Regions from separate parts of the Homo sapiens genome. Here regions 2 and 3 are each linked to region 1. The links come from fine-mapping of genetic effects on gene expression. A gene starts in region 1. Each other region holds a variant in brackets. All regions are shown on one strand. Distances are from middle to middle.

What was found. PIP is the estimated chance that this variant, and not a neighbour inherited with it, causes the effect.
Region 2: its variant is fine-mapped to the expression of EPHX2 in minor salivary gland (GTEx, PIP 0.98).
Region 3: its variant is fine-mapped to the expression of EPHX2 in esophagus mucosa (GTEx, PIP above 0.99). The same link has a PIP of 0.9 or more in hippocampus, iPS cells, ileum, liver, pancreas and sun-exposed skin.

What each region holds. Positions count from the first base shown.
Region 1 is chr8:27,484,536-27,494,931 of GRCh38, reverse strand. It overlaps EPHX2 (epoxide hydrolase 2), which reads right to left and starts at 3,789. Exons shown (of 19, transcript NM_001979.6): 1 at 3,623-3,789. The coding sequence starts at 3,723. RefSeq lists a silencer at 3,706-3,985 and a cis regulatory region at 5,732-6,046.
Region 2 is chr8:27,523,970-27,534,365 of GRCh38, reverse strand. EPHX2 (epoxide hydrolase 2) reads right to left here. Exons shown (of 19, transcript NM_001979.6): 12 at 8,893-9,004. Among named protein-coding and RNA genes, the nearest start is that of EPHX2, 38 kb to the right of the region's middle. RefSeq lists a silencer at 6,388-6,588. The variant C/T (reference allele first, on the strand shown) is at 4,011.
Region 3 is chr8:27,539,260-27,549,655 of GRCh38, reverse strand. It overlaps EPHX2 (epoxide hydrolase 2), which reads right to left. Exons shown (of 19, transcript NM_001979.6): 15 at 9,000-9,102; 16 at 8,114-8,183; 17 at 5,827-5,907; 18 at 5,412-5,470; 19 at 4,092-5,212. The coding sequence ends at 5,134. Among named protein-coding and RNA genes, the nearest start is that of EPHX2, 53 kb to the right of the region's middle. The variant A/G (reference allele first, on the strand shown) is at 5,041.

The sequences.
Region 1 (10,396 bases):
ATTAAGCCCCAGTATTCCCCAACCGAAACAGAATGAGGACTTTCATGGGGGCATAGTTTTCTCCCCTCCAGGTGGTTAACAACAGAAGAGGGAAAGGTACTCATGCCCGAAGCCAGCCAGTGGAAAATACTTAAGACCCTCCACCAAACTTTTCATATGGGTATTGAGAACACTCATCAAATGGCCAAATCCCTATTTACAGGGCCAAATCTCCTTCAGACCATCCAACAAGTAGTCAAAGCCTGTGAGGTGTGCCAAAGGAATAATCCCTTGGTCCATCATAAGGCCCCTCTGGGGGAACAAAGAATAGGGCACTATCTAGGAGAAGACTGGCAGTTAGACTTCGCCCATATGCCTAAGTCAAGGGGATTTCAATACTTGTTGGTCTGTGTTGATACCTTTGCAAATTGGATGAAGCCTTGTCCTGCAAGACAGAGAAGGCTCAAGAAGTGGTTAAAGTCCTAATTCATGAAGTAATTCCTAGATTTGGGCTTCCCCAAAGCTTACAAAGTGACAATGGTCTGGCTTTTAAAGCCATGGTAACTCAGGGAGTTTCCAGGGCACTAGAGATACAATATCACCTTCACTGTGCCTGGAGGCCACAATCCTCAGGAAAAGCCCATACAAGACCTTGTGACCACGAATACCGAATACCATCTTAACTTTCCAAGCCCTTTTATGCATCCAACACAACCTGTTATCAGGCCTGCCCCTGGGGCACCTACTATCCCATCAGTGTAATTACACCCTATAACTTCAAGCCCCAACTGATCATAGTAACTCCTGAGTCACCCAAACACCTCCATTCAGATGGCTTGTCTGCTTCTCAGGGCCCCCCAAAATCATCACCTCCTCCCTGTTTAACAAACAGTCTGGGTTTTGTAATGGCAAACATACTCCCTGCATGACCATTCACCCCTGGACCCCCTGCAGCAGCGCCCCCACCACTAGTGTATGTCTTCTTATCCCCTCTTTCAATTACTCTCTTGGATGGTTCCTAGTAGATACAAAACGGTTTTTTCTCCAATGGGAAAATAGAGCACAGGGAGCCACTCAGTCTGCTCCCAACACCCTTTCCAGCTGCTCACCAGAGCTACCTTGGCAAGTACTCTAGGAGTGTGGGAAAATGAAAACAAACTCACACACCTTTTTAACATACACAACCAGTTTATTCTACCCAGCCAAGGCATATTCTTCTTATGTGGAACTTCAACCTATATCTGCCTCCCACCAGCTGGACAGGCACCTGCACCTTCTCCTAAGTCCCAACACTAACAATGCCACAGGAAATCAGACCCTATCAGTGCCCCTCAAAGCTCAAGTCTGTCAGCCCAGGACCATACAACTAATACCCCTACTTATAGGGCTAGGAATGCCCACTGCTACAGGAACCAGAATAGCCAGTTTAACTACTTCATTATCCTACTACCATACACTCTCAAAGGATTTCTCAGACAGTTTGCAATAAATAAATCTATCCTTACTCTACAATCCCAAATAGACTATTTGGCAACAGTGACTCTCCAAAACCGCTAAGGTCTAGACCTCCTCACTGCTGAGAAAGGAGGACTTTGCACCTTCTTAGGGGAGGAGTGTTGTTTTTAAACTAACCAGTCAGGGATAGTACAGGATGCTGCCTGGCATTTACAGGAAAAGGCTTCTGAAACCAGACAACACCTTTCAAATTCTTATACCAACCTCTGGAGTTGGGTGACTTGGCTTCTCCCCTTTCTAGGTCCCGTGACAGCCATCTTGCTATTACTCACCTTCAGTCCCTGTATTTTTAACCTCCTCCTCAAATTTGTTTCCTCCAGGATCAAGGCCATCAAGCTACAGATGGTCTTACAAATGGAACCCCAAATGAGCTTAACTCACAACTTCTACCGAGGACTGCTAGACTGACCCACTGGCCCTTTGACTGGCCTAGAGAGTTCCCCTCTGGAGGACACTACAACGGCAGGGCCCCTTCTTTGCCCCTATCCAGCAGGAAGTAGCTAGAGTGGTCATCACCCAGTTCCCAGTAGCAGGTGGGGTGTCCTGTTATGAGGGAGGATTGAGAGGTGAGGCCAGCTGGACTTCCTAGGTCGAGTGGGGACTTGGGGAACTTTCCTGTCTTACAAGAGAATTGTAAAATGCACCAATCAGCGCTCTGTAAAACGCACAATCAGCAGCATTCTAAAAGTAGCCAATCACGGGGAGGATTGAAAAAAGGGCACTCTGATAGGACAGAAATGGAACATGGGAGAGGACAATAAGGGAATAAAAGCTGGCCACCCCAGCCAGTAGCGGCAACCTGCTGGGGTCCCCTTCCATGCTGTGGAAGCTTTGTGCTTTCGCTGTTCACGATAAACCTTGCTATCACTCACTCTTTGGGTCTGCGCCATCTTTACGAGTGTAACACTCACTGCGAAGGTCCACAGCTCCATTCTTGAAGTCAGCAAGACCACGAACCCACCGACAGGAACCAACTCTGGACACAACTATAGCCTCCAACTCCTGGGCTCAGGCAATCCTTCTGCCTTAGCCTCCCAAGTAGCTGGGGCTACATGCATGCACTAATGTCTAGCTAATTTTATTTTTATTTTTGGAGAGACAGGGTCTTGCTCTTTCACCCAGGCTGGTCTTGAACTCTCAGCCTCAAGTGATCCTCCCACCTTAGCTTCCCAAAGCACAGAGATTACATGCCTTTCCCTCAAGCTACTTGCCATCTCATCTTCCTTACTATATTAAAAGCAAAGGCTCCGGACATGGACTACTGGGGTTGGATTTCTGGCTCTGCTCTTTAACAGCTATGTGATTTGGACAGCTGGTTTCTTTCTGTGCCTCAGTTTCCTCATATGTAAAAGGAGGATATGAACAATGGCTTCCATGCCTGGCCTTCTTTTTCACTTTATAAATAAGTATACTTCTCTCCTTTCTGAATGTGGGAATAATACATTGTTTATAAATTTAGAAGTTGGAAACTACAAAAAAAAAAAACACAAAAAAAAGAGAGAGAGAAAGAAAATCATTACATTATTCCTAATCTCATTTGATGTACTTTGGCCTATTTCTTTCAGGCACTTTTCTGCATGTACCTTTTTTCCATAGCTGAAACCATATTGTATAAATAGCTTCAGATTCTGGTGGGGTGGTTTTTTCATGTAGTAGAACAGGTGTTTTCCCAAGTCCCTGAGCTCTCACTCTGCACACCCCATCTACCATTTCCCAGTGATGTGGCTTTGGGCGGTTGCTGCAGTTTGCTATTACACAAGTAAGCATGCAACCCACACCTGGGGAGAGAACTTTCTTCTCTCCTGAATCTCGGCTCGCATCTTTAAGCGCCACCCCATTAGACAGGAGGCAGCAGAAGCACAAAGCTCCATGAGTAACTCCTCTCCCTTTTGGAAAAGTTCACAGAAAGCAATTTTGGAGACCTTGGCAACGTTTAATTATGAACATTTAGAAAGACAACGGATCTCCTCATATGCACTGGGACTTCAGGGCCAGGTCTTCAGTTTCATGATTCGCATGATTCGCAGGGCTCCGGCACAGGAGCAATCTGAAAGCTGGGCTGCAAGCCCAGCGCGGTCTGCCTCCTGAGGCCCCGACCCACTGCGGCGGCGGCGCTGGGCCCCCTTACCTGGGCAGCGCCAGGGCCTCCTCCGTGCGGCCGAGGACGCCGAACACCGCTGGCAGCGCCAGCACCCCGTCAAGGTCGAAGACGGCCGCGCGCAGCGTCATGGCGGCGGGTCTGCAGCCTAGCACCCGGACACGCAGCTAACCTGGGAGATGCGCGAAGGCCAGGGCGCATGACCCGCCCAGCTTGGCCCGGCTCTGCCCCGCCCCTGCCCTGGCCCCGCCTCCTCCCCACACCCCCTTAACGGGACTCCGCCCTCTGCCCGGGTTAAGGCTGGACTCTGGCCGGGAAAGAGGCAGGGGGAGGGGCACAGGAAAGGGAGTCAGAGGGAGAGGAAGAGGAGGCCGGGAAGGCGGGGACCCCAGGCTAGAATCTCGCCTCTGGATGTAACGCTTTCTACTGTCTCAAAGGAAAGTCCAAAGTCTCTTATGCCCCCTCCCCACGCCCCTGCAGTAGCTGCTTGAAGAGGCAAACCCAGGCCCGGGCCTTCCTGGACGGACTGACAGCTCCCTGCGAACTTGCTGGACTTGGAATGCCTGGGAAAGAGGCCACAGACTCTGTGTGTGTGTGTGTGTGTGTGTGTGTGTGTGTGTGTGTGTGTGTGTGTGTGTGTCAGCACATCCAGTGACTTCTACATTCAGAACATAAGACCGTGTTGGGGGGCGGGGGAGGGGCATATCCAGTGACTTTTCTAGATTCAGAACGAAGGATCACAGATCCCTCACTATCCTGACCACTCCTCTAGGCACGCTCTTCTTTGCCAAGGCAAATGTGTTTCTAGAATAAAATATGATGTTCCAGCTATCGTGTGCCAGCCCAGAATACTTCGATTTCAATCTCTTGTGGAATGAAGCTTAGAAGAACTAAATGTAGGCTATTATTTTCCTTTTGTACATGCTACTTGTAATAATTCTGTCTTAAAATGTGCGAGGTTTGTTTTTAATCACCGATTTCCACACTATTGGCTCGTTTATGTTCCTAGAAAAACTAAAACTTTGGCTGGGAGTTCTTGAGCTGTTGTAGTGCAGCTCCATGAATTAAAAACCGTGTCTTTGGTGGAGACCAAACAGAGTGAGTGAGGTCTCCAACAGTGGAGAATTTACTCTTGAATGTGTCTCTGTGGATTTATCCAAGATACCCTCCACCACGGAGCTTCAAGAACCTTGTGAGGGGTTGTCAGATACCTCACTGTAACTGGGAGGTCTACAACAGTCTCTGGATCTAGCAATCAACAACAGGATTGACCAGAGCCGTGGGTTTCCTCTGGGCTGTTTGCCCTTAGCAAGCTATGCTGTTGCTTCCTTCTCTAGCTTGGTAACCTCTTCCAGGCTCCTGCCTGGAGCAGTTATTAGTGTTTTCTGAGATTCTTGCCAAAGAAGCAGAGAGTGGCCAACACTGCCAAATGTTACAGGAAGAACTGAAAAAAAAGCTGTCCAATTTTGGACTTGGATGACACCGGATGTTTCAGAACACTTTTTGTGGGCCCTTTATGGTAGAAACTGGATTACTCTGGATTTGAAGACTGAAAGATAGGCAGAGAAGGGAGTACAGCAAGCTAGTTTCTCATGAAGTTAGTTGATCTCAAAGGTATAATTGAATTTTAAAAAATAGAAAGAAAATTGCAGCCTGACCTATATAGTATGAAACCTGTTAAATCTCCAGATTGGGCATGGTGGCACACACCTGTAATCCCAGCACTTTGGGGCTGAGGTGGGAGAATTGCTTGAGGCCAGGAGTTTGAGACAAGCCTGGGCAACAAAGCAAGACATTCTCTCTATAAAAAATAAAAATAAAATATTAGCTAGGCATGGTGGTGCATGCCAGTAGTCTCTGCTATTCAGGAGGCTGAGGTGGGACGATCACTTTAGCCCAGGAAGTGGAGGCTGCAGTGAGCCATGATTGTGCCACTGCACTCCATCCAGCCTGGGTGACACAGCAAGACTCTACCTCCAAAAAAAAAAAAGAAAGAAATTAAATCTCCAACTTAGAGTTTCCTTTGGGCTCCAGACTTGCCAACTTCTTACTCAACATCTTACTCAACGTCAATATCCAACTTCTTACTGAACATCTTCTCTTGAGTGTCTAACAGGCATCTCAAATTTATCATGGCTAAAACAGAACTCTCTCTGCATTTCTACTTCCCACGCCTGTTCCTCCTAGTGTGTTCCCTATCTTACAAACTGGCATCCCCATTGACTCAGTGGCTCAGTCCCGAGACCACGGAGTTGCTTCCAGATCCTTGGCTCCCAGCCAAACCATATGTTCGTGTTTCTAGCGGTGGCCTGCTGATTGAGGCAGAGATAGCAGCTTCTAGTTCTATGGTGGTGTTTTCTGGGAGTCCTTCCTAAAGGCTCAGTCTGGAGCTCACTCCTCCATTCCGTTCAAAGATTGTGTAGGCTTGCAGTCTCTCATCTTAAATCCCTTTCTTCTGTTTCTATTTAAAATAACTACAGTGATTTCTGTTGCCTGCATCTGAATTCTGCATCTAGCACAGTATTGCTTATGAATACGTAAGTATATTTATACAAGCAGTAAAGTGTAGAGGAACGACATACCTACAGAACTAGATTTCATAAAGCCCCCTTTTGAGAAGAAAAATTTAAAAACATAGAAATATGAGTTTTACTTTCCTCTTTGGTTAAGAGAAAGCCATGAAGCTATCACATGGACTTTTATTTATTCAGGAGCAGTTAACTTGTAAATAGCTCTGGTGTGGAATATTTTTATAATGCCTTGTGAGTTACAGAGCTTTCTGGCTGAATTGCTTAGGCAAAGATTAAAGGTCTCAATTGCATTTCACTGCACTTTGCCCTTTTTCATGGTCGTGCTTCTCCTGTGTTTTCTGCTACTAAGGTACAGAGAGATAAGGGCTTACCCAGCAGGGCTATGGGAACTGGGTGGCTTTTTGAAATGTAAATCCTAACCCCTATGTCTTCTAATTTTAATATTTATGAAATATGTTTTAGGTGATAGCATGAATCATAAAAGATGGCTAATGTAGTAGTGAAAATTTATAAATTACACCTGATTTCAATCACTAAATTCATAATGAATGTACACTGACCTCATTAAGGTTTATTTTGGGTTTTCTGCCATTCCTGTGCCTTCTGCAACTTCCTGCTAGTCCTTGATTGTCAAACCCTATTTTATAAAATCTGTTTAACCACTAGGGGTTGGGAGGGAGGACTTTACACTGCTGCTTCTCTCTACTGTAGATACTCATGGAGTTCAAAGTAAAGCTACCTCTGGCAGTTTTCTAAACCTACAAACCACTTGAAGTTTTGTCTTTTTTTCAATGCGGCAAATGAACGAGCGTCTTTCATTCCATCAGCAAATATGTATCAAGCATCTTCTATGTGCCAGGCACTGTTCTAGGCACTTGGGATCAATTGTTAAATAAATCAGACAAATATAGGGGCCGTCAAGGATCTTCCATTTTAGTGGAATAATGAATTCAAATGGTAGTGGCTGGTGGCTTCTGGAGCAGTGAGAAGAATGAGATTGGGAATAGTGGTGGTGGCTACTTGCCGTTTTTCTTATTTGTCATTTTCCAGCTTCCTAACATCTATAACCTTTTCTTACATACAGAAAATTCCAGCCGGGCATGGTGGCTCACACCTGTAATCACAGCACTTTGGGAGGCTGAGGTGGGTGGATCACCTGAGGTTAAGAGTTGGAGACCAGCCTGGCCAACATGGGGAAACCCCGTCTCTATTAAAAATACGAAACTTATCTGGGCGTGGTGGCACACACCTGTAATCCCAGCTACTTGGGAAGCTGAAGCAGGAGAATTGCTTGAACCCGGGAGGCAGAGGTTGCAGTAAGCCAAGATCATGCCACTGCACTCGCAGCCTGGGCAACAGAGCAAGACTCTGTCAAAAGAAAGAAAAGAAAAGAGAAGAGAAGAGAAGAGAAAAGAGAAGAGAAGAGAAGAGAAGAGAAGAGAAGAGAAGAGTAGAGTAGAGAAGAAGAGAAAATTCCATCTGGCAGTGATGAAGTTCTGCTTCAGAGATACACAACATCCTTTCAACATCTTCTATTTTGATAGTTCTCACTGTTTGAGAACTACTACTGTTTTGAGTTCTACCTTCTCACAGTAGAATCCACAAACAACATGTTGCCCAGGCTTCCTTAATGCTGGCCAGGTGCACGGGCTCTGCCAATTGGGCATACTCGCCAGGGATTTGGGAATGGGGATGGGCAGCCCAAAGCCACAGCTGTGTGAGCGGGAACTTTCTTTCAGCGAAGGCAGAAGCAGCAGCATCTAGTTTTTCTGGGGAGGCTGTGATGGAGCTTCTCTGGTCTGGTCCTGAGTGTACTTGGTGCCCACGCTGGGGCAGAGTGGTGGCTTTGTTAAAATTGCACCAAGGGGTGGCCTGCGGTCACTGTGCTGTTCTTGGCTATATAGTTTCCAAAGCTGCATCTCTTGTCCTCCCTGAGATTCTGTGTGTTAATGTCCTATAATAAGAACCTTTCTGCTTATATGACCGAGAGGAAGCTCTGTAGTTTGTAATAAAAACCCTATAACGCATACCGGCCTTATGAATGTTGATAGAAGGAAGAACCGCATTGACTGCAGAATTTGGAAATGCCCTGTGCCCACTCCCCAGCCTGCCTGGAAGTGAGAGTGAAGGCCTGTGAGCTCCATTCAGCAACTCAGGTGCACCAACCCAGCCCTTACAGTGGGAGCAGGTGAAGGAAACAGGCCAGAGGAGAAGGGTGTCGGTCGGCAGTTTCAAGGGCAGCAGCAGCAGCGGCCAGGGTCCCTGGCTGGCAGGGACGGTGCAGGCCCCGAGGCCCTCAGCGCCCAACTGCAGCAGTGGTGTCTTCACAAGTCCAGTTCTGTGCTATGAGTTTGGCAATGACCTTGCTCTTGTTTTCCAGGCTTAGTTCTCCAAGCTCCCAAGGGCCCTCACTGATATCCTGCCCTCAAATTCTGTGCTTAAGTCAGCCAGAGTAGGCACTTCTCACTCTTCACCAACTCCAAAAACCCTTCTACTGTGCCATCTGGAACTTTCTGGAACTTGGTTTTATTATCAGCATAATTCACCATTTCCTCAACCTCTTTTCCATTCTCTTCCCCTCCTGCTGTACCCGAAACCTGGCTCTCCCCTGAGGAAACTGCTTTCTTTTTTTTCTTTTTTTTTGAGATGGGGTCTCACTCTGTTGCCCAGGCTGGAGTGCACTGGCATGATCCTAGCTCACTATTGAGAGCAGCAGGAGGCAGCCAAATGCCTGGGCAAATAGGGGCAGGTCCCTGGTGAAGCCCCACCTCCAAGCCGAAGACAGTTTAAAGCCTGAACACCAAACTACAAGTTAAATCCCCAGATCGGATGGAGAATTCGTCTTCCTGTTTGGCACACTTTCCTCAGATTGTTCCCACCCTGCACCTATTTGACATATACCTAACCTTTCCTAATTTGTTTTCTGCATTGTCATGCCCGCCTTTGAGTGGTGTCTTCACTTTAACCTTTTTTGCATACTCACAAACCAATCAGCATGCACTCCCCATCCTGAGTCCATAAAAGGCCCGGACCCAGCCACATGAGGGACTTTCCCACCTTTGGGTAGGGGGACCACCCCCGTGTCCCCTCTCTGCTGAAAGCTGTTTCGTCGCTCAATAAGAGTCTTCTCCACCCTGCTCACCCTTCCATGTCCAGCATATCTTCATTCTTTCTGGGTGCAGTACAAGAGCTTGGGAACCACCAAACATGGGTACAAGCTATAACGCAGGCAAGCTGGGGCACACCAGCTTAGCCAAGCAGGGCCTGGGTGGGGTGTTGCTGGCCAGAAGTCCTCAGCTTGCAAAGTGATTGAGAAGAAAAATCCTACATCACTGTAACCTCGAACTCCTGAACTTAAGCGATCCTCCCACCTTAGCCTCCTGAATAGCTCAGACTACAAGCATATGCCATTGTGCTTGGCTAATTTTTAAATTTTTTGTAGAGATGGGGTCTTGCTGTGTTGCTCAGGCTGGTCTCAAACTCCTGGCTTCAAGCTCCTGCCTCGGCTTCCTAAAGTGTTGGGATGACAGGTGTGAACCACCATGCCTGCCCCCACCGCACGCCTGGCCCCCACCGCACGCCTGGCCCCCACTGCAGTCTTTGCAAATGCTCAGTGTTCTCTCCCCTCCTTGCCTGTGCTGCTGGGCAAGGACAGGCAGCTGTCCTTCTTGGTCCTCATCACAGCTCCTGAATTGTCCCTGAAGACCCACTAATTCTACTGTTCTTCTCTAATCCGTTTTCTCTCCTAATCTCCTAGAAGACTATGTAAGCTCCCTTCTCTGCTTGCATCTCCAATACTCTCTCCCCTATCCTTACTCTCAGCCAATACCTTTTCTTCCTATTTCTTTGAGAAAACTGGGACAAACAGAAAACTTCCACTGGATCCCAGCCCCCTGTCAACCCCCCTACCTGCACCTAAGCAGATTCTCTGCTGCCACGATGTCCAGGCCCCACCATTCTTAGCTGAGGCCAACTTTCTACTGAGGCATTAGATTCGGTGCGCCTGTAGGCAAGAGAACAATGCCACATCTCCCACATTGTTGGTTAACTCCTCTATGGGATCATCTCATTCTCATACCAACAAAAATGACATATTTAGCCCACATTTCCCTCCAGTTACCATCGTATTTCTCTCTTTTAAAGAGAAAGTCTGTGAGAGAATTGTTCCTACTTTTTATCACTAAGCCTTCTTGGCCCATTCTCCCCTGAACTCATTGAAATCATGCTTTTGTCTTTATACCTTGCTGAAAGTCATCTTGCCGACATCCCAAAA
Region 2 (10,396 bases), 39 kb before region 1:
CGTTACTCTTTTTTGTTCTGCTCATCACTCCTCACGAGAGCTCTGGATCTGTGCAGTGGCAGCACAGAAGAATGGAGACATTGATCATCTGGCGGTGCTGGATCTAGGGTTGGAGATTTTCTGATGAAAGCTATGTCTGCCTGTTAATGACAGTTCCCTCCGTTTTGTAAGATTCAATTATAATGGTGCCAATGGCGGCCTTCCGCAACATGATGATGAATGCCACAGTGAGAAATAGCCATGGGAAGAAGCACATTTAGGTCATGGATGGAAGCCCTGGTCAGGTCTGTGTGTGTGGCTGTCGGTCATCATTCTTATTTACTGAGAGCAGTCCTCATCCCAGAAACAGCTGCTGTTCATGAGCTCAGGGGTGCATTTCAGTGTTTGAAGGAACCCATGGAAGCCTGGACAGGGCTTTGCCTCAAATGATCCTTTAAAGGGCAAACGATGTCAAAAAGTCAGTAAAGAAAATCAAAGAGTCTAGGTGTGGTGGCACAAGCCTGTAATCCCAGCACTTCGGGAGGTCCAGGCAGGAGGACTTTGAGGCCAGGAGTTCAAGACCAGCCTGAACAACAGTAGAGACCCTGACTCTACAAAAAATATTTTAAAAATCAGCTGGGCATGGTGGTGCATGCCTGTGGTCCCAGCTACTAGGGAGAATGAGGCAGGAGGACTGATTGAGCCCAGGAAGTCAAGAATGCAGTGAGTTATGATTGTGCCACTGCACTTCAACCTGGGCAACAGAGTGAGACCCTGTCTCTTAAAAAAAATCAGAGAGAAAAAAGGTAAATAAATCTGTTCACTCACATAAAAGTGCAGCAGAGCAACAGAAAGAATAGGATGAAGCTGGGAGCCAGAAAGGAGAGAAGATAACATTTGTCCTCTGCTTATGCACTTAGCTGAGATCTTCCGACTCTCTTTCATCTACAAAAGATAAGACTATATCTTTAAATCCTACAGACCAATGACAAATTTCCTGTCTGCCCTGGAGAGGGGCTCCTCCTTCTGTGTTCCTGCGCACAGAAGTTAAAGGATGGACTTTAGAATCCAATAAACACAGTTTCAAGCCCAAGTACTGACAGTTACCAGCTGGGGAACTTCTTTCCCTAGAGCCTCGGTTTCCTCATCTGTAAAATGGGGATTTTGTAAGGATTAAATGAGATAATGCCCATTTCTTACAATGCCTGACATGCAGGAGGCATGCCAATAAATATTAATATCATTATCTCCATTATTATTATTATTCGTTTAGAGACAGGGTCTTGCTCTGTTGCCCAGGCTGGAGTGCAGTAGTGCAATCATGGCTTACTACATCCTCAAACTCCTGGACTCAAGTGATGCTCTCGCTTCAGTCTTCTGAGGAGCTGGGATTACATGTGTGCACCACCATGCCTGGCTAACTTTTAAAACATTTTTGTAGAGACGGGGTCTGGCTATGTTGCCCAGGCTGGTCTCAAAGTCCTGGCCAAGTGATCCTCCCACTTGGCCTCCCAAAGTGCTGGAATTATAGGTGTGAGCCACTGCACCTGGCTGATTTTTTAAAATTTTAAATTAATATCTAATTAGGGTTCTTTAAATGATATCATCTTGGCTTTAGATTGGGCCCTAGATCTAATGACCTGTGTCCTTATGAGAGAAAGAGGGAAATTGAGACATACAGAGACACAGAAGGGAGGATGCCACATGAAGACGGAGGCAGGGACGGGCGTGATGTGTCTACAAGCTGAGGAACACCAGGAATTGCCAGCAACGGCCAGGGGCTGGGAGACAGGCATGAAATGGACTCTCTCTCGGGAGCCCCCAGAAGGGACCAACCCTGCCGAGACCCTGATTTTGAACATCTAGCCTCAAGAACTGTTGAGAATTCACTTTTGTGGTTCTAACTCACAGCTTGTGGTACTTTGTTATGGCAGCCCCGGGAGTGGGAACACAAAAGGAGAAGCCCCTATCCAGAGCAGGCAGGAAATTTGTCATTGGTCTGTAGGATTTAAAGATACGGTCTTACCTTTTGTAGATTAAAAAGAGTCAGAAGGTCTCAGCTAAGCACATAAGCAGAGGACAAATGTTATCTTCTGTTATTTTCCTCCCATTTCTGGCCCCCAGCTTACACTAAAGCATGTCTCCAGGGGGTATCTTGATGTGGGGGCTGAGGGGAGAGGGTGAGGAGGGAAAGGGGCCAGGGTCTTCATTACCCTGGGCTCAGGGGGCCCAGGCACCACCCCCAGGAGCAACAGGCAGCAGGTGTGCCAACCGCAGGGTGGGGGTCTGGAGGGTCCCAGGATCCAAGGTGCCCTGGACTTCCCTCATCCTCTCAATTTACTTCCCATGTGCGTATTCAGCACACTGTCAGAGGAGCCCCCAGAAATGCAGGGCACCACAAAAAGATGGAGTTTTGTCTAGACTTTCCACTCAGCGCTGGTAGGGGCGGCACTGTCAGTCACCTAATTTGCCAGGGAGGTGCCCCCACATTGGTGGAGGGCACAGGATTGCCTCCTGTGCTCAGCCCTCCTAACAGGGAGAGCTCCCCTCCACCATCCCAGGAGTTTCTCCTCTTTAATCTTCTCTTGTGTCCTTTCCAAGGTAGAGAACAGGTCTGCTGAGAGGCTGCACTTAACTGTGGCTATTGTTTTGTGGGTGAGACAATGGAGGCAGCTGTTGAAGCCAAATTGCAGGTCCACGAAGCCCCCACTCAGCCCTCCTGCCCTTTACAAGTAACGCCAAAGGATGCCATCCAGGAGTGGAGGTGAAGCCTCTGCTGGTCAGCGGGCTGGGCCAGTGACTCTGTTTCATGCTCCGTCTACCTTGACAAAAATGACTCCAATTCCTCTGGAAGTCTGCGCCAGTGTTCTCCAAGACAGGCCAAGAGAAACAGTGGGGTGGTTGTCCCTGAGGTCAAAAATGGCAGTGGCTGGAAGCATCCGAAATCTGGGCAGACAGCAAACTGTTGACCTTTGACTCTGCAGTGTGGCTGGTCAGATGAGAAAGAGGTGGACAGCAAAGACTTAGAAGGCTCTACAGGGACCCAGGGCACTGGGGGCCGCCTGCCACATGCTGATGGTGCCAGCTCTTTCTGTCCATAACAGCCCTGAGCTGTGAGGCCCATTTCACAGAGGAAGACGCTCAGGTCAGGGGCCTTAAGTGCCTCGTTGAAGGTCAGGCAGATTATAAATGAGAACATCAGACTCCAAACCCCTCCATATTTGGTTCTTTTCACCACAACCTAACACAACACTGCCAATTTAAGACAATGAAAATAACCCTGCCAAGGGTTTCCTCCATAAAGGGCATAAAAATTAAAGTAACAGCCGGGCGTGGTGGCTCATGCCTGTAATCCCAGCGCTTTGGGAGGCCGAGGCAGGTAAGTCACCTGAGGGTGGGAGTTCGAGACCAGCCTGACCAACATGGAGAAACCCCATCTCTACTAAAAATGCAAAATTAGCCGTGCGTGGTGGTGCATGCCTGTAATCCCAGCTACTTGGGAGGCTGAGGCAGGAGAATCACTTGAACCCGGGAGATGGAGGTTGTGGTGAGCTGAGATCATGCCATTGCACTCCAGCCTGGGGAACAAGAGCGAAACTCCATCTCAAAAAAAAAAAAAAAAAAGAAAAAAATTAAAGTAACAATAGTTAAAGCTTGGTGCATAAGGTAGCAAACAGTGGCACTTTCTTTTAAACTATATTATTCGGCTGTGAAAAATAATCAAAATAATGTCCCTCCACAGAGGATTACATAATCCATAGTCTACCTGTTACAAAACCCCATGCAGCCATTAAAAAGAATGAGATAAATCTATATGTGCTGACAAAAAAATCTGTGCAATATGTATTAAATGAAAAAGCAGCATGATTCCATTTATATGAAAAATTATATATGTGTGTGTGCTCATACACACATATATTTGCTTAAAAACATTCAAAAATAGTTTTTAAATATTTCAAAAAATGTCTGGGAAATACCAGACTATTAGTAGTAGCTATTAGTAGCTCGTTGATGGGCAAAGGGCGATTCAG[C/T]TTTTTACTTTACACAACACAGGACTTTTTTAAATAGCAAGGATGAATTACTTCATAATTTCAAAACAAAAACAAAACCTAAAAAATAAACTCTGTAACTAATCACCAGCTGTCCCCATGGCCTGAAGGAGCTACTGTGTTCTAGAGATTAAGAAAGATTCAACATTTAGGCTGGCATGGCAGCTCTCACACCTGTAATCCCAGCAGTTTGGGAGGCTGAGGTGGGAGGATCACTTGACGCCAGGACTTAGAGACCAGCCTGGGCAACACAGCAGAAAAAAAAAAAAAGAGAGAGAGACTCAATGTTTTGAGGAGAAAGAAAATCATTTGTGGATGATTTTCAGCCAGGTAAAACCTTCTGCCTACAATTTTTCTTTTCCCACATTTTCTCTCTGATCCTTAGTTTCTCTTCTGGTTAAATACTTAAATAAAAGGGCTCTTTTTTCTTTTTCTTTTTTTTTTTTTTGCTCAGGCTGGAGTGCAGTACTGCGATGTCAGCTCACTGCAACCTCCATCTCCCAGGTTCAAGAGATTCTCCTGCCTCAGCCTCCCGAGCAGCTGGGATTACAGGCATGCACCACCACACCCAGCTCTTTTGTATTTTTAGTAGAGACGAGGTTTCACCATGTTGGCCAGGCTGGTGTCAAACTCCTGACCTCAGGTGATCCACCTGTCTGCTGAGATTATAGATGTGAGTCACCACGCCCAGCCCAAAAGAGCATTTTTTTTTGCCTGAAATCTGCCTCTAGCTTGCTATATGTTTCCAGACACACACACAGGTGCCTGCCACCCAGTCTTCCTCAAAGAAATAAAAATACACATGTGCGGTTTAAGGACAAGTAAAGAGGACCAGTGTCGTGAGGTGGGAGAGAGCAGGGTTCACAGGATATCCTAGGTACGTTCTGGTATGGGGGGCATAATGGGGTGTGAGTATCCCCCAGGCCAAGTGAGGACTTTGGGAATCCTCAGAATTAAAACATGGAACAGCTAAGCTGAAATGACCCAGCCGATTCCACTGGCCTTCGCTGCCAGAGCTGCCTAGTCTTCATGCTTTCTCACTATACACATGGAAAGCTGTCACCTCTTCTCTGAGAAGGCAAGAAAAGCAAGCCTTGTTTGTTTCCAGCAGACTTGGCAGATTCCCAGGCCAAGATTCAGCACGTTGGCTAAGGGTTCAAAGAGCTATATGGGAGCTGACTCTAAACTTGGAGTTAGTCTAAGCCTCACCCTGCAGTGCTCAGCAGAGATGACCCAGAAGTGGGAGAGATGGGGCTGGGCGCAGTGGCTCACCCAGCATTTTGGGAAGCCGAGGAGGATGGATCACCTGAGGTCAGGAGTTCAAGACCAGCCTGGCCAACATGGTGAAACCCTGTCTCTATTAAAAATGCAAAAATTAGCCAGGCATGGTGGTGGGTGCCTGTAATCCCAGCTACTCGGGAGGCTGAGGCAGGAGAATCGCTTGAACCTGGGAGCTGGAGGTTGTAGTGAGCCGAGATTGTGCCACTGCACTCCAGCCTGGGCGACACAGTGAGACTCTGTCTCAAATAATAATAATAATAAAAAAATAAGTGGGGGAGACGGGTGCACCCACAGCACAGAAGGAGTCTTCCTTAGGCTGCATGGGTCTGGAACAGCCTCAGTGCTCCTAGGGAGAAGGAGGAGATGTCAGAAATGCCTCCTCCTGGCCAGGGAGGGAGCGGGTTAGGAGGTGGCAGGAAGGAGGAACTCCCAGCACCCACTATACATCCAAGAGCTGTTCTCCATGTTATTGGCTTTATTTGCTGACCTGGAATCAGCTTAAGTTTGAAGCTATTACCTGTTTGAAAACCACCCAAAACCAACCTTTTGCAGATGAGGAAACTGAGGGCCAGGGATGGGAAGTGCCTTTGCCTACTTGTTCCTTAGAGAGTAGGTATCAGGCAGGCTGGCAGGAACCCCTGTGAGTGATTTCTCCTCCAGTCCCAGCTCTGTACCTATTGAGTGGTTCCAGTGGCTGGATGCAGCCCAACCTGGTTACTGGGTATCTTTCAGTGGCCAGATCACTAATTTGAATATCTAACATTTCCCTGCCAAGGCGCTTTGTTCTTAAGAACAAAACTGTCCCCAAAACTCTCACTGCAGATTTTAAACCCAGCTGCTACAACAGAATAGAGGTACTGATTTTTCCACAATAACTGTTAACAACCTTTGAAACAAAAAACTGTGCCTTGACAAGGGCTGTAATTACTAAGCGTCTTTCTCCTAAGGTCACTTTTGCAATCAGGATTTTGAGCCTATCCTGATTTGTCCCTCCTCTCTCTGCTTGACTCCCCATAGCGCACAGAACAAAGCCCAAGCTCCCCTCCAGCATGGCTTAGTTGGAGGCATGGGCTTTGGAGTCAAACAGGCCTAGGTCGATATCCTGACCCAATCATGTACCTGGTCTTGGGCCAGTTGGGGTTAAGCCCTCTGAGCCTCGGTTTGCTCAGCTGAGAAGATAGGAGAGAATTCTTCGTGTTGCTGTGAAGATTAGAACCACGTGGCACATAAGAGCTCAAAAACAGCTGTAGCTGTAACCCATTGACAGATGACCAGATTAAGAGAATGTGGTCTATACACACCATGGAATACTATTCAGCCTTAAAAAGGAAGGCAGTTCTGGCCCCTGCTACAACATGGGTGAACCTTGAAAGCATGATGCTAAGTGGAAGAAACTAGTCACACAAGGACAAATACTGCATGCTTCCACTTATATGAGGTTCCTAGAGGAGTCAAAATCATACAGACAGAAAGTAGAATGGTGGCTGCCAGGGCTGGGAGGAGGGGAGATGAGGAGTTAGTGTTTAATGGGCGAAGGGCTTCAGTTGGGAAGATGAAAAAGTTCTGGAGGTGGATGTGGTGATGGCTGCACAACAATGTACATGTGGTTAATGCCACAGAACTGCACACTTACAAATAGGTGACATGGTCAATTTTACATTACATGTGTTTTACCACAATTAAAAATATTTTAGGCCATGTGCAGTAGCTCACACCTATAATCCCAGCACTTTGGGAGGCCGAGGCATGTGGATCACCTGAGCCCAGGAGTTTGAAACCAGCCTGGTTAACATGGTGAAACCCCGTCTCTATATATTCACACCTGTAATCCCAGCACTTTGGGAGGCCGAGGCGGGCAGATCATGAGGTCAGGAGTTCGAGACCAGTCTGGCCAATATGGTGAAACCCCGTCTCTACTAAAAATACAAACAAACAAAAAAATCAAAAAACTAGCCGGGAGTGGTGGCATGCACCTTAGACCCAGCTACTCAGGAGGCTGAGGCAGGAGAATTGCTTGAACCTTAGGAGGCGGAGGTTGCAGTGAGCCGAGATTGCGCCACTGTACTCCAGCCTGGGCAACAGAGGGCGACTCCGCCTCAAATAAAATAAAATAAAAATAAAAAATACACACACAAAAAGTGAGCCAGGTGTGGGGGCACACACCCGTAGTCTCAGCTACTCAGGAGGCTGATATGGGAGGATCATCTGGGCCTGGAGAGGTCGGGGCTGCAGTGAGCTATGATCACACCACTGCACTCCAGCCTGAGTGACAGAGTGAGATCCTGTCTCAAAAAAAATTTTTTTTAATGGGCTAAATACCATATGAGGAAACAAGGAGAAGAGGACTACCCACAAGCCAAGGAGAGAGGCCTCAAGAGAAACCAACTCTACAAATACCCTGATCTTGAACTTCCAGCTTCTAAAACTATAAGACTGTGAATTTCTGTTGTTGAAGCTGCCCAGTCTGTTGAGCTACCTAGCCTTTGTTATGGCAGCCCCAGCAAAGTAATACGCCCTCTACACCACACACCACACCCATAGTCTCACCATCGAGACTATCTCACACTAATGAAGGACATTGTGCTTTCATTCAGGCCAAAGGAAGCTCGTGGATTCCCACACACCAGGCTGTGGCACAGCAGGGCCCAGGCCTCCCTGTAGTATGTGGGATGCGACATGTCGAGGTCTCTTCAAAATGCCGCTGGGAGCTTTTGGTGAATGAGTCCAGTTATTGCCTGAATCGCAAAGCTCCTTTCACACAGATGCTGTCTCATCAATGAAAATAATTGTTGGAGAACAGTTACTCGTTGAATCGAAACTGGGATGGTTGTGGTCTTGCTGGAAACGGTCCCTCCTAAGAGGAGCAGAGGTGGAGGCTGGGAGAGGAACGTGGGAGACGCTCTCACATTCCTGATTAATTAATTCCTTCCATTCCTCTCTCTCTGGAGTGTGCAGGAAACATCTTTTATTCTCTCTGGATAATTCCTGCAAGTGGATGCATAGCAGATGTCTCCCACAGAAGAGGGCAGCTGTAGGCGGGGCACCAGGCCAGGTGACGTTGACTCCTGATGCTGCTCTCAGTGAATTCCAGTTAACAGTGGCAGGGATGCCCCAATATATGTATCAGCCACATCTGGGGGCATCTTTGAAAGGCATCTTTGTGGCACGTGTACTGATACCTAGAAACTTCTCAGATTCTTCAGAGCACATGTGGGGCCTGTTGCAGGACTCTTAGACCCTGGTGCCATAATCACCAGCCTTTCAGCCAGAGAATGAGGAGGGGCAGCTCTACCTGAGCATTGAGCCCCAAAACTCTGCAATTGCAGAGACACCAGAGAAGCCATCCCCCCAGGGTACAACATCCCCCGGCCCTTCACCACCCGAACACACACGGAAATGTGCCATTGCCTGGGAAGGATCAGCTGGGCATGGCAGCCAGTTTCACCTGAGCCCATTTGTAAAATCATTTCTGACTAATGCCACATAAAATTAAAGGGGACAGTGATAAAGCAAATAAGAAGGAGACAGGAAGGGGAAAGGCAAACACTAATGCTCCCATTGTTGCCCTTGGTGCCATACTTACTGGTTCTTGGAAGTAGAGCTGGTAATCAAATACTGGGTTGGCTTTGATACTCTCCAAAGGGGACATGTTGGGATTTGCTGGTATGAAGGGAGTATTCAAACTGGCCACCGCCCTACAGAAATAAGAGGCAGCAAGACATAGCCCCTGTAAGAAGACAGTCTTACAAGAGCCAGAAAGGACTTTGCAGTTCAAAACTGAAGCTCAGAGTGGGAACATTCTATGCACAAGGTCATACACTAGCAGTGAATGGGAGAATGGGATCAGAACTCAGGATTTTCGATTCCTAGTCCATTGGTTTTTTTCCTACTAAACTGCAGTATTTCTCACCAACTTGCCTTAGACACATAGGTGCGCGCGCGCGCGCGCACACACACACACACACACACACACACACACACACACACAGTACACATACTGTAGCAACCCTGGATAGAATATGGAGACACGAATCTCTCTCTAGTTTTAAAATATACATTCATTTTTTTTCCCTCCCTTTATTCACTCATTGTGTCTCCTCTGGATTGAGCATAATTCTATGGCATATACTAGAGGAGAGAAAATGTAAAATGAATAAAATATCGTTTTTATCCTCAAGGAGCTCATTATAATTTAATAAGGAAAAATAGAAAAACACACAGTGACCTTATGAGATGACTATGATATGAGCCATAGAATAGCACAAAATAGCATAGGAGTTGGAAGGAGATAAGGAATTCCTGAACTGGGCATCATGGAGGACCCTGTGGAAAAGGGAGCATTTGAACTTGGCTTTTCAGAATGGGGAGAGCTGGGGAGGAGAACAAGGCCTGGGAGGGGAACAACATAAGGTAGCCTGAGCAAATTCTAGAAGGGGGCAAAGCTTGCAGCTGTATTCAATGGAGCACACAGTCTGCGTGGCTAGAAGCCAAGCATGGAATGGAATATGTTGGGAAATAACAACAGAAAGGCAGTGGGGAGCCTAGACATGAAGGGACCTGAGTCTGAATTTGGTGCTGTAAGAACCAAGAAAACCATGAGGGCGTCTCAGAAGAAGGGAGGGTGGATCCGAGTTGCAGTCAGGATGATTAATCCAGCCCTGAGAGACCACATGGACACAGAGAGAGAGGTCAGGAAGATTAATCAAGCACTGAGAGACCATATGGAAGCAGACAGAGAGGCCAGAACCTGGGAATCCAGCCAGTAGACCACTGACTTATCACCTGAAGAGGGAATAGGATGCTAGCAAAAGGAATAGAAAAGACGGACAAGCATAGTGGCTCATGCCTGTAATCTCAGCACTTTGGGAGGCTGATGGGGGTGGATCACTTGAGGCCAGGAGTTCTAGACCAGCCTGGCCAATGTGGTAAAGCCTCATCTCTACTAAAAATACAAAATTTAGCTGGGCGTGTTGGTGCATGCCTGTGGTCCCAGCTACTCAGGAGGCTGAGGCAGGAGAATCACTTGAACCCAGAAGGTAGAGGTTGCAGTAAGCCAAGGTTGCACCACTACACTCCAGCCTGGACAA
Region 3 (10,396 bases), 55 kb before region 1:
AAAACCAAACACCGCATATTCTCACTCATAGGTGGGAATTGAACAATGAGAACACATGGACACAGGAAGGGGAACATCACACTCTGGGGACTATTGTGGGTGGGGGGAGAGGGGAGGAATAGCATTGGGAGATATACCTAATGCTAGATGACGAGTTAGTGGGTGCAGCACACCAGCATGGCACATGTATACATACATATGTAACTAACCTGCACATTGTGCACATGTACCCTAAAACTTAAAGTATAATAATAATAAATAAATTTAAAAAAAGGAAAGATATTCAACATCACTAATCATTAGGGAAATTCAAATAAAACCATCATGGGACATCACATGGCCATTCTATATATTAAAAAAACAGAAAATGGAAACCAGCTATGGAAAACCATCTGGTGGTTCTTCAAAATATTAAACATAGAAATTACAATATAATCTAGCCATTCCATTTTTTGATATATACCCAAAAGGACTGAATTCAGAGCCCTAAAGAGATATGTGTACACTGATGCTCAGAGCATTATTCATAATAGCCAAAATATGGAAGCCATCCAAGTGCCCATTGCTGAATGAGTAGGTAAACAAAACGTGGTCTATACATACAATGGAATATTATTTGGCCTTAAAAAGAAAGAAAATTCCAACACATGCGACAACATGAATGAACCTCGAGGACATTAGGCTATTTATTTATTTATAGAGATGGAATTTCCCTCTTGTCGCCCAGGCTGGAGTGCAATGGCATGATCTTGGTTCACTGCAACCTCCGCCTCTGGGTTCAAGCGATTCTTCTGCCTCAGCCTCCCAAGTAGCAGAGATTACAGGTGCCCACCACCACACCTAGCTAATTTTGTATTTGTAGTAGAGATGGGGTTTTGCCATATTAGCTGGGCTGGTCTTGAACCCCTGACCTCAGGTGATCCGCCCGCCTCGGCCTCCCAAATTGCTGGGATTACAGATGTGAGCCACCATGCCCGATCAAATTTTAATTATTTTAACTTGAAACTAATGCATTTGTCCATTCATCCATTTGTGCATATACTCTCCAATTTATTCAGCAAACGTCTAATGAGCATTTTACATATGCCAGGCCAGTGCTGGGTTGGGTTTCAGGACGAATTACTTAGACAGGCAGCCCCCGATCTCAGGGCCCTCACAGTCTAACAGGGAGACAGACAGTTACACATTTGGGTGCAGGAGTTGACACTTTACAATTGCTCAGGCAAGAAAGTATTTTATCATTTGTGGCCAGATGGAGTCCTTTGAACAGTGAGGCATAATATTTGTCACCCAATTCCTGTTGGAAAAAAACCCTTTGAGCCTCTGACCTAGATATTTTAACCATTGTTTGCTTTTAATTTGTATTGATGGTAATGTGGCTGTGAACGACACGGAAACTGGTGGACAGTCATGTCAAGGTCTAAAACCGTGGGTTCCCTATACCCCAAGACAGACAGAAATAGCTTTTTGTCCTGTCTAGTCTAATAGACTCACTTTTTAGAAGACGGGTCTCCTGGAAACCTTGGATGTTGCTAATTGACAGCCACTAAGTGGTCCTTCCTTGACAGAATATGTGAGTGATCTCAGCCTCCTCCCGGGAGCAGCACAACCCACTGCTGGAGGGTGTGAGAGAGAATATGAAGACTGCTGGACCTCTTTTTTAAGGGCCGATTTCTTTTAGCAGAGGGGAATATACTTGTAATCTATTCCCTTTGTAATCATGAAATAAAAATAACATATTTTTACTATTCAGCCACAAAAAAAGAATGAAATCTTGTCTCTCGCAGCAACGCGGATGGAAATGGAGAGCATTCTGTTAAGTGAAATAAGCCAGAAACAGAAAGTGAAACACCACATGTTCTCACTCACATGCAGAAGCTAAAAAAAAATTCATTTCCTAGAAGTAAAAAGTAGAATGGAGGATAGGAGGCTGGGAAGGGTTGGGGAAGAGGTGGGGGATAGGGAGGGATTTAAGGAATGTCAAATTCCAGCTAGATGGGAGGAGTAAGTTCTAGCGTTGTATAGCACTGAGCAATGACTACAGTCAACAATGATACATTGTTTTAAATAGCCAGAAGGAGGTTATTAAATGTCCTCAATACAAAAACGATAAATGTTTGAGATGACATGTGTAATTACCCTGATCTGATTGCTACACATTATATGTATCAAAACATCACTATGTACCCCATGAATATGTACTAGTATGTTAATTACAAATTAAATTCAATCCCAAAATATAGCATTTTATAATTAAATCATTTTGAACACACTCCTTGCCATTTGTACTTAAAATGGCATCTGAAAATCTTCCCTGATTGTTCCAGGGAATGCCCTGATACCACCACTGCAACAGTTGACGTGTGGCCCAAAGGTCCTCAAAGCAGACCAGGAAACATAGCCCTGGACATTCCACTATCTTCTTGAAAAACCTAAAGACCTCTTCCAGTCCACTGTCCTTTATGGCCCTTGATACGGTTTGGATTTCTGTCCCCACCCAAATCTCACGTCAAATTGTAATCCACGATGTTGGAAGTGGGGCCTGGTGGGCAGTGACTGGATCTTGGGGGCGGATTTCCCCCTTGCTGTTCTCGTGATGGTGAGTTCCCATGAGATCTGGTTGTTTATAAAAGTGTGTAGCACCTCCCCCTTCTCTTTCTCTCTCCCTCCTGTTCTAGACACGTAGGATGTGCCTGCTTCCCCTTCACCGTCTGCCATGATTGTAAGTTTTCTGGAGCCTCCCCAGCCATGCTTTCTGTAAAGCCTGCAGAACCGTGAGCCAATTAAACCTCTTTTCTTTATAAAGTAGCCAGTCTCCAGTAGTTCGTTATGGCAATGGGAGAACAGACCGATACAGCCCTCAATCTTGTATAACCAGTTATATTTTCTGGCAATGCTATGGAATGGAGTTATTCAACTCTTACTTGCCAAAGGAGCAGAATTTCTGAGGCCTTTTTGATGGCTGATGGAGATGACTGGATAGAATATTAAAAGCGAGACTTTCGGGAAGACAGGTTTGCTGTTTGTGCTCCTTCCAGTAAAGGACGCTTTTAGGTTTTGATTATTTCCTTTCCCCCAACTGCTCCCTTACAAATGAGCTTGAATACACCCAGTTAGGAAAATAATGTGATCTGGTGTAAGCCTTTCCCCCAGTCCTCATGATTGCCTTTAAATTAGCCCTTTAATTCTCAGATGCAAAAGATTGAGATGGTGGTGGCATGGCTGGAAATGGAAAGCCCTTAGAGGTCTTGTCCTAAGACAAACTGGAAATCTTATAGCTGATACTTCCATAGCACTTCCTCCATGCCAAGCACTGTTCTAGAACTCTGTGCATATTATTAACATACTTGATACAACCACCCATGAGTTAGGTCCTACTAACGTCCCCTTTTTTATAGATGAGGGAACTGGGGCACAGATATCCTTTTTCAAGGTCACAAGGCGAGTATGCAGCTGACCGGAGGCCTAACCTAGGTGGTCTGGCTCCAGATTTAGAAAGGAGAACTTCTCTTTTTTTTTTTTTTTTTGAGTCGGAGTCTCAATCTGTTGCCCAGGCTGGAGTGCAGTGGCGCGACGAGAACATTTTTTTGTAGAAAAAGCTCAGCCTTAGGAGCCAGAAAGCCTGCTTCTGAATCCAGGCTCTGCCCCCATCTAGCCAAGCAGTCCTGGGCAAATTATCTGAACCTCAGTTTCCCTCTCGGTTAAATGGGAAGGACTCTCTGGAAGGATCAGAGGTGGTGCATGGAAGACTCCAGGTGCACTAGGGCAGTGAAGAAATGCCAGCAGCCTCCATTTCAAACCTCTCCTGGCTTTCTCCCTATACACAGATACTCAGGCTCTTGTGACCTGGCCAACTCATGCCCGTCATCATGCCAAACTCAGCTTGGAGGGACCACTTTCTCTCGCAAGCAGCGAGGCCATTGTGCGTGCATCTGTGAGCCCGATAACCATGCAAGGGGGGCAGGCAGAAAGGGCTCGGAACCCAGCCTATGGGCTTGGAGGAGGTGGCAGGAGGAATATTCCAGGCAAAGAATGGGTAAGTTAGGCAGAGGGTCAAGGAGGATCAGCACCTGCAAGTGTGCTGCTGGAGGGCGGTTAGGAATTGGAGGGTGATGGGGCCGGGCTGGGGGTGGGCAGGGGCAGTTGGGGGAGGCCCTGCGAGTTTCAGGATCCAACCATGTGGGCGGCAAGACCCGTGAGGAGGCTGCTGCTCCAGGACTCTGGGGCTGGAAGCAGGGCAGGGGAGAGACCACTGCAGGAGACACATCAGTGAGATGGGAGCCTAACCGGATGTGACAGGAGGCAGGAGAGGGTAGAGGGGAAGATAGGGAGGAGGGGGCAGAGGGGAAGATGAGCTGGATCTGCCTGAGCCTCATGGCAGCTGCTGCTATTTAACTTTAAACTGATTACAATTCAATGAAATTTAAAATTCTCTTCCTCAGCCTCACTAGCACATTTCAAATGCTCCAGGTGCACATTTGTGCCTGAGCAAACTCTGCTAGGGAAGCCGGGAGAAAGGCAGGTGGCTACCTGTGGCCAGTGACTGCTCTAGGGGACAGAGCACAAGACACCACTGCCATCCCCATAGGATTGTCTCCTGGCCAGCACGGCCTAGATCATACAGCACCTTGGAGCCCAGAACAGGGCTCAAAAGCAGAGGGAAAGGGTTCATCCCCATGCCGTGCATTCTCCGTGAACAGTCACTCCACCTCTCCAAGAACAAAGACAGCCAGCAGCATAGTCATCTTAGCTTTATTGAGTAAGGCATCCCAATCTCTGCTAAGATTCTTCTAAATGAACGGCTGATTTTTCTGCCAAACTATGCATTGGTCAAAGAGAAATCACCACCTGGCCACCCCATTCTGTCCCCCTACAGGACACTAAGGGTTCTTACAGATAAAGGGACGATGCATTCATGCCTGGAGAACTAATCACACCTGATTTCTCTGGGATCTAAAATAATGTCAAATTTGATTCACTTTATGTAAAGAAAATCTTTTTTTTCTGCAAACCCCTTCAGAACAATGCTGCCATCCATGC[A/G]AGATGTGTGTAAGGCCACCTCTGTATACTAAGAATGGTGCCCCAGCAGGTGGAAGGATGGCACACCTGCTGAGCGTGGGCACACGCTGCGTTCTACATCTTTGAGACCACCGGTGGGTTCCGGGCATCAGAATCCAGCCACTTAATGAGGATCTGATTCACCTCGGTTGGCCTGGGGGAAAGGGAGAAGTAAAAGAAAAAAATAGCCATTCACACTTGTCTGCACCTACCCAGCCAACTCGAAGGCAGAGGTGAGTGACATGAGTGGCTAAGCCAGGCCAAAGCCAGCACAATGAAACCAGGAAAGCTTTTATGGAAGGTGAACGGGGGGCCCTGCTCTCCCCGACCCCAGGAGCCCCCAACCTCCTTACTTGTCCATCTGTGTCCAGTGCCCACAGTCCTCAATGTGTCCCCTTTTCAGGTGGGGAATCTGAAAGGAAACCCCAGGCAGAAAGGTAAATGGAAGAAGGCAGATGGGTGTGTCTCTAGCTAGTGCAATGGGCAATGGACGCCTTCTCTCTGCTCCCCGCAGGCCACCCTGCCCAAACCCTGCATGATTTAGGAAGGGAATAATGAATGAATGAGACCCCACATCCATGCAGGGGAAAGGAAGGTACAGTCACGGTTGCTGCTTGCAATGGGGGGACAGTGATGTTACTGATGATGTGCTTCAACCATGGTCCTATCCACATGACAAGGTGTATCTTCTGCTGCCGTCTTCCCTCTGAGCACCCGTGCCCTCTCCCGGGGTGCACTGATGACCCTTGTACAGGGCCATTCCCTCACCCAGTCCTCCATGTGCTGGGACATCTGAGGAACGAGCACGAAGTCCTTCTCCGCCGTGACCATCAGGGCCGGAATCAGGATCTGGGGGGAGAACAGGAAACAGAAGTGGCCAGCACTCCACAAAGGAAGCCCTCCCTCCTCCTCTGAAAGACCCCTGCTCGCCACCCTGCTGTGGTCCTGACGTTGTATCTGCCGAACTTTGCACAACAGACTCGTGGTTATTACTGGAGATCTTTAAAATAACAGCTTCAGCAGTGCAGAGGCCAATATGGGTCTTATGTGTGCAGATGTGTGTGAGTGAGAACGTGTGCTGAGCTGCATGTAACTGGGAGAACCGAATTGATGGCACCAAGAAGGCAGAAGACACCCTTGAATGAAGATCAAGATTCCTCTTCCCTGAATTAAATAGATGCTTAAAAGGGGCGACCAAGGTTCCAGAGAAAATGGGGGCAGCCACAGTAGTAATCAATGTGACATGAATGGCAGCAAAGTAACTTCCAATTGCTGGCAAATGAGTTGAACACAGGGAGGCATGCACAGGAAGGCCAGGAAAGCCTCTGTGTTTTTTCCTTTGTTCTCGCTCCACCATTACCCTAATTTCCAAGCAGCTTTGACCCATCCCTGGTTGAGGAACGTGCACTATTTTCATTTACACCCAGAGTGATGGGCATCTCTCCACACCCCTCCCTCCTCCCACAACCAGGAGCCAGGAGAAGGTCAAAAATGATTTTGTGGCTAAAACGAATCCTGAGGCTTCTATGAGGTTTGTAAACTCTAGAAAGTTCCAAGCTAAAATGTGAACTGGGCGGGGGGCGGGGGGGGGAGAGGATGGGATGGGAGGAGGTGGGGGAGGAGAGAGGAAGATCCAGCTGGAAACTGCAGAAGAGAGGCTGGGTGCAGTGGCTCACGCCTGTCATCCCAGCACTTTGGGAGGCCGAGGTGGGTGGATCGCCTGAGCTCAGGAGTTTGAGACCACCCTGCGCAACATGGTGAAGCCCCATCTCTACTAAAACACAAAAAATTCGCTGGGTGTGGTGGCGCACTCCTGTAATTCCAGCTGCTTGGGAGGCTGAGGCAGGAGAATTGCTTGAACCCAGGGGGCAGAGGTTGCAGTGAACCGAGATCGTGCCATTGCATTCTAGCCTGGGCAACTGAGCAAGACTGTCTCAAAAAATAAACTGCAGAAGAGGAGGGTTTCTGACCTTAGCACCATTGGGATTCACCTTCCCAGCGCCTTTGTCAATATTTTCCTCCACGCTTTGAGAGATTTTGTCTGTCCAACTGCAGTTTGGTCATTTTCATCGGTCATATGATGATAATGACAAGGAACACTAATGGAGCTAATAGGTTCCCAGTACTGCTTGTAACAGGTCACATGCCTTCAACCATTTCATCCTTACACAGCTCTGTGAGGGAGGCACTGTTCTTGCCACTTGCATATTGCAGAAGAAGCCACAGTGGATCAGAGGGGTTAAGTACCTTTCCCAGGGTCACACAGGGATTAGACTCAGCCCATGTGCTTCCTAGCCTGCTCTTAACCACGATGTTATATACTCTAGTGCCTCAAGACTTAATTTTGGGAGGTCAAGACCTGGTCTGTTTACACACCATGGTATCCCAGGGTCTGGCAGGAAGTCTGGCATGTAGCAGTGTGTTCACTTACAGAGTGAACCAACAAGGTAACCATGGCTACTGAGTGAGCTGATGAAGGCCTAGCTACCTGTGCAGTCACACTGGGGAACAGATTTCCCTTAGATTTTTAAACATTTTGAATGTAAACTGGGAACCTCCATTACTCCTTCTGCAGACCCAGAGATTGGAAACTCATCTTCTGCTTGACAAATGAGGAAACTGAGACTCAGAGATTGACTTGTGCAAGGTGACACAACCGAAGGCTAAAGTCACATCTCTGAGAGCACCTAACGCTCCTCTGGGCTGGGGGCTCCAGTATCCATGTCACTTCTGGGAGGTGCCCCAGGCCATCTGCAGCCCTGCCTTGGGGTACCACCAGGGGACCTGGGGATTCCGGATGGATGCTGCAGTTCCCTGGACACACCCCAGCTCCATCCCCAAGGTCACCCTCTACCATCCCAAGAGAAGCACCAGCAAGAAAGATCCTAGGGAAACCCCTGAAGGGAGTCACTTCCCAAACCCCAAAGGGAAAGGAGGTGGCCAGCAGATCTGTCCACAACCAGCTCTGGCCCAGGTCATATCAGCTCAGGCCAATGGGAAGCCCCGCGGGCGGGTCCTGGGGTGTGGATGAGACTACACTGAACCTGGCACTCACCTTCCGTCCCAAGCTTTTGCAAGCCCACTTCCAGTTCCTTTCCATGTTTCGGTACCAGTTTAGAGGACCTCTGGGGAGAGATCAGAAAGTAAAAAGAGGGAGGCAGTAAGTAGACGGCTCTGCTACAGACACCAGCAGAAACCTGCTCTGCACAGCCAGTCGTCCTGGGAAGAGCAAAGCCTCCTGCAGGGGCAAGAGAATAGAGCCCAGGACCCACGCCTTGCTGTCGGGCGCAGTTGCCAAGCTCTAGCAGCAAGGCCTTGTGCAAGGACACAGGACTCCACTGAGTGAACTGGCAGCCTCTAGGTTGGCTTTTGGGACACAAAGAAGCCGGCCCTACAGGACCCTCCAGGGAATGTCATCGTGTCACCTTGGAGGCTGGGGAGGTTGCTGATGGTGGGGAACTTGGTTTAGCAGCCTCACCATCCAGAGGCCACTCGCCTGCCCCAGGGAGCCCACTTGAGAGGGACATTGGGAGGTGGAGCAAAGATGCCCCCTCCTAATATGACATCAGGAAGTAGGGCAAATGCACCAAAATGTATGCACTTTTTGAGTTTATGTGGATTTTTATGTTTTTCTGAAGAAAGAGCCCAGAGTTGCCATCTGATTCTCTGAGGAGCCATGACTAAAAAGTAGTGAAAACCCTCTGCCCTATGGGGGCCCCATAAGCATAAGGAAGAACAAGCTGAGCTATCCCAAACTAGAGCAGGCTGAGCACCATAAAGTAGTGAGCCTCCCGACACTGGAGGCATTGAAGCAGAGGCTGGCCTGGCACTAACGAGGGCTGTGGTGGAGGAGAACTGGGCCTCACCCTCCACCCTGAGGGCTGAAGATCCCTATCTGTCGATCATCTCTCATCTGTGTCTGGGCCCTGTGCTCTCTTTACCTGAAACCAGACTTCTTGAACTGCTGCACATAGAACTGGATTTCCTCCTCAGTGACCATCCTGCTGAGGCTGGGCTCTTCTGGGCTATTTACAAAAAGTCCTCCTGCAAAAAAAGCCACTTGTTGACTTTCCCATCCCCGGGCCAGGTGTCTGCATTTTAAGGTGGGGACCTCATTGCCTCTCGCAGACCATCTGAACTTGCGCAAGGCCTTATGAGTGCCTCCATCTTTTGTTCCCTTATCCTTTGCCAGAGTGATCCCATCTCCTCGAAAGCTCAAAGCTGTGATCTCACGGTCACACTGGAGCCTGATGTTCCCTCCCACCTAGCCACGACTTCACGGGCTATTATCACAGCTCCTGGACCAACCACAGTTGCCGGCTTTTTCAGGCACACAGCAGCTATATCCCAGACCCTGCCAGCCCCCAGCTCCTGCTCTCCCCTCGTCTAAACCTTTCCCAGCCAGCTTAACTGTGGCCCTTTGGAGATATCGCCAGAGATTCTTGGAATTTTCATAAGGATTTGCTCCGTTTTTCCTCTAAGGCAGGAAGAGAACCCAGGCCAGGTGGCTGCATCCTGTCACCTCCCACGTGCCGCACAGACCCTCTGTGGTATCCCACTGTGGACCCCTCTCTTGTCTTCAGGGTGCTGCACAGTCCCTCCAGAGGATGGCCTGTGATGACCCCTGGCAGCCCAGGGACCACTGCAATTTCACAGGGCACAGCCTCAATGCTGGTGCCTGAACAGGGCCCGTCGGCATTTTCAGATTCACGAAGACCCGGAGGCACAGGAACTGGTCATTCCAGGCTTTTGTGAGACACATCAAAGGGGTATGTGATGAGGATGTCACCCTGTGATGAAGCCACCCTGAGCCTCCCCACCAGGCGGGTGCTCCAGACTCACTGTACCTCAGGGCCCCTCTGCGAGCATCCCAGCTGCTCTGCCTCCCGTGAGACTGTGGGCTCACTGAGGGTGGCCACCCTGCTTCGTGTGTCTGGGTAGCTGAGCATGCAGCCCCAGCTTCATACCCAGCCTGTGCTCACAGCATTTGAGGAATGAATGAATGGGTGAATGAATGAGTGACAGACGGTGTGAAGGAATAAGGGAATGTGGGTGTGGGGGAGGGAAGGAAGATGTTCTTTGAGCAGTGACAAGAGCATGGCCTGCAGGGTCAGAGGAGTTTAACCCCAGCTCAGCCACTTCGGACAAGTTACTTAACCCTCTGAGACCTGTTTTCCTCTTTGGAAATTAAAAATAGTAGCATTTTTCAGAATGCTTCGAGGATCACAAATATTTTATCTAAAGGGGGTTAGTCCAGAGTTTTATACAGATGGTCAGCACGTGCCCAAACAAGTGACAGTGGTCATCATTATTCATAAAAATACAAGTGAATGCTGTC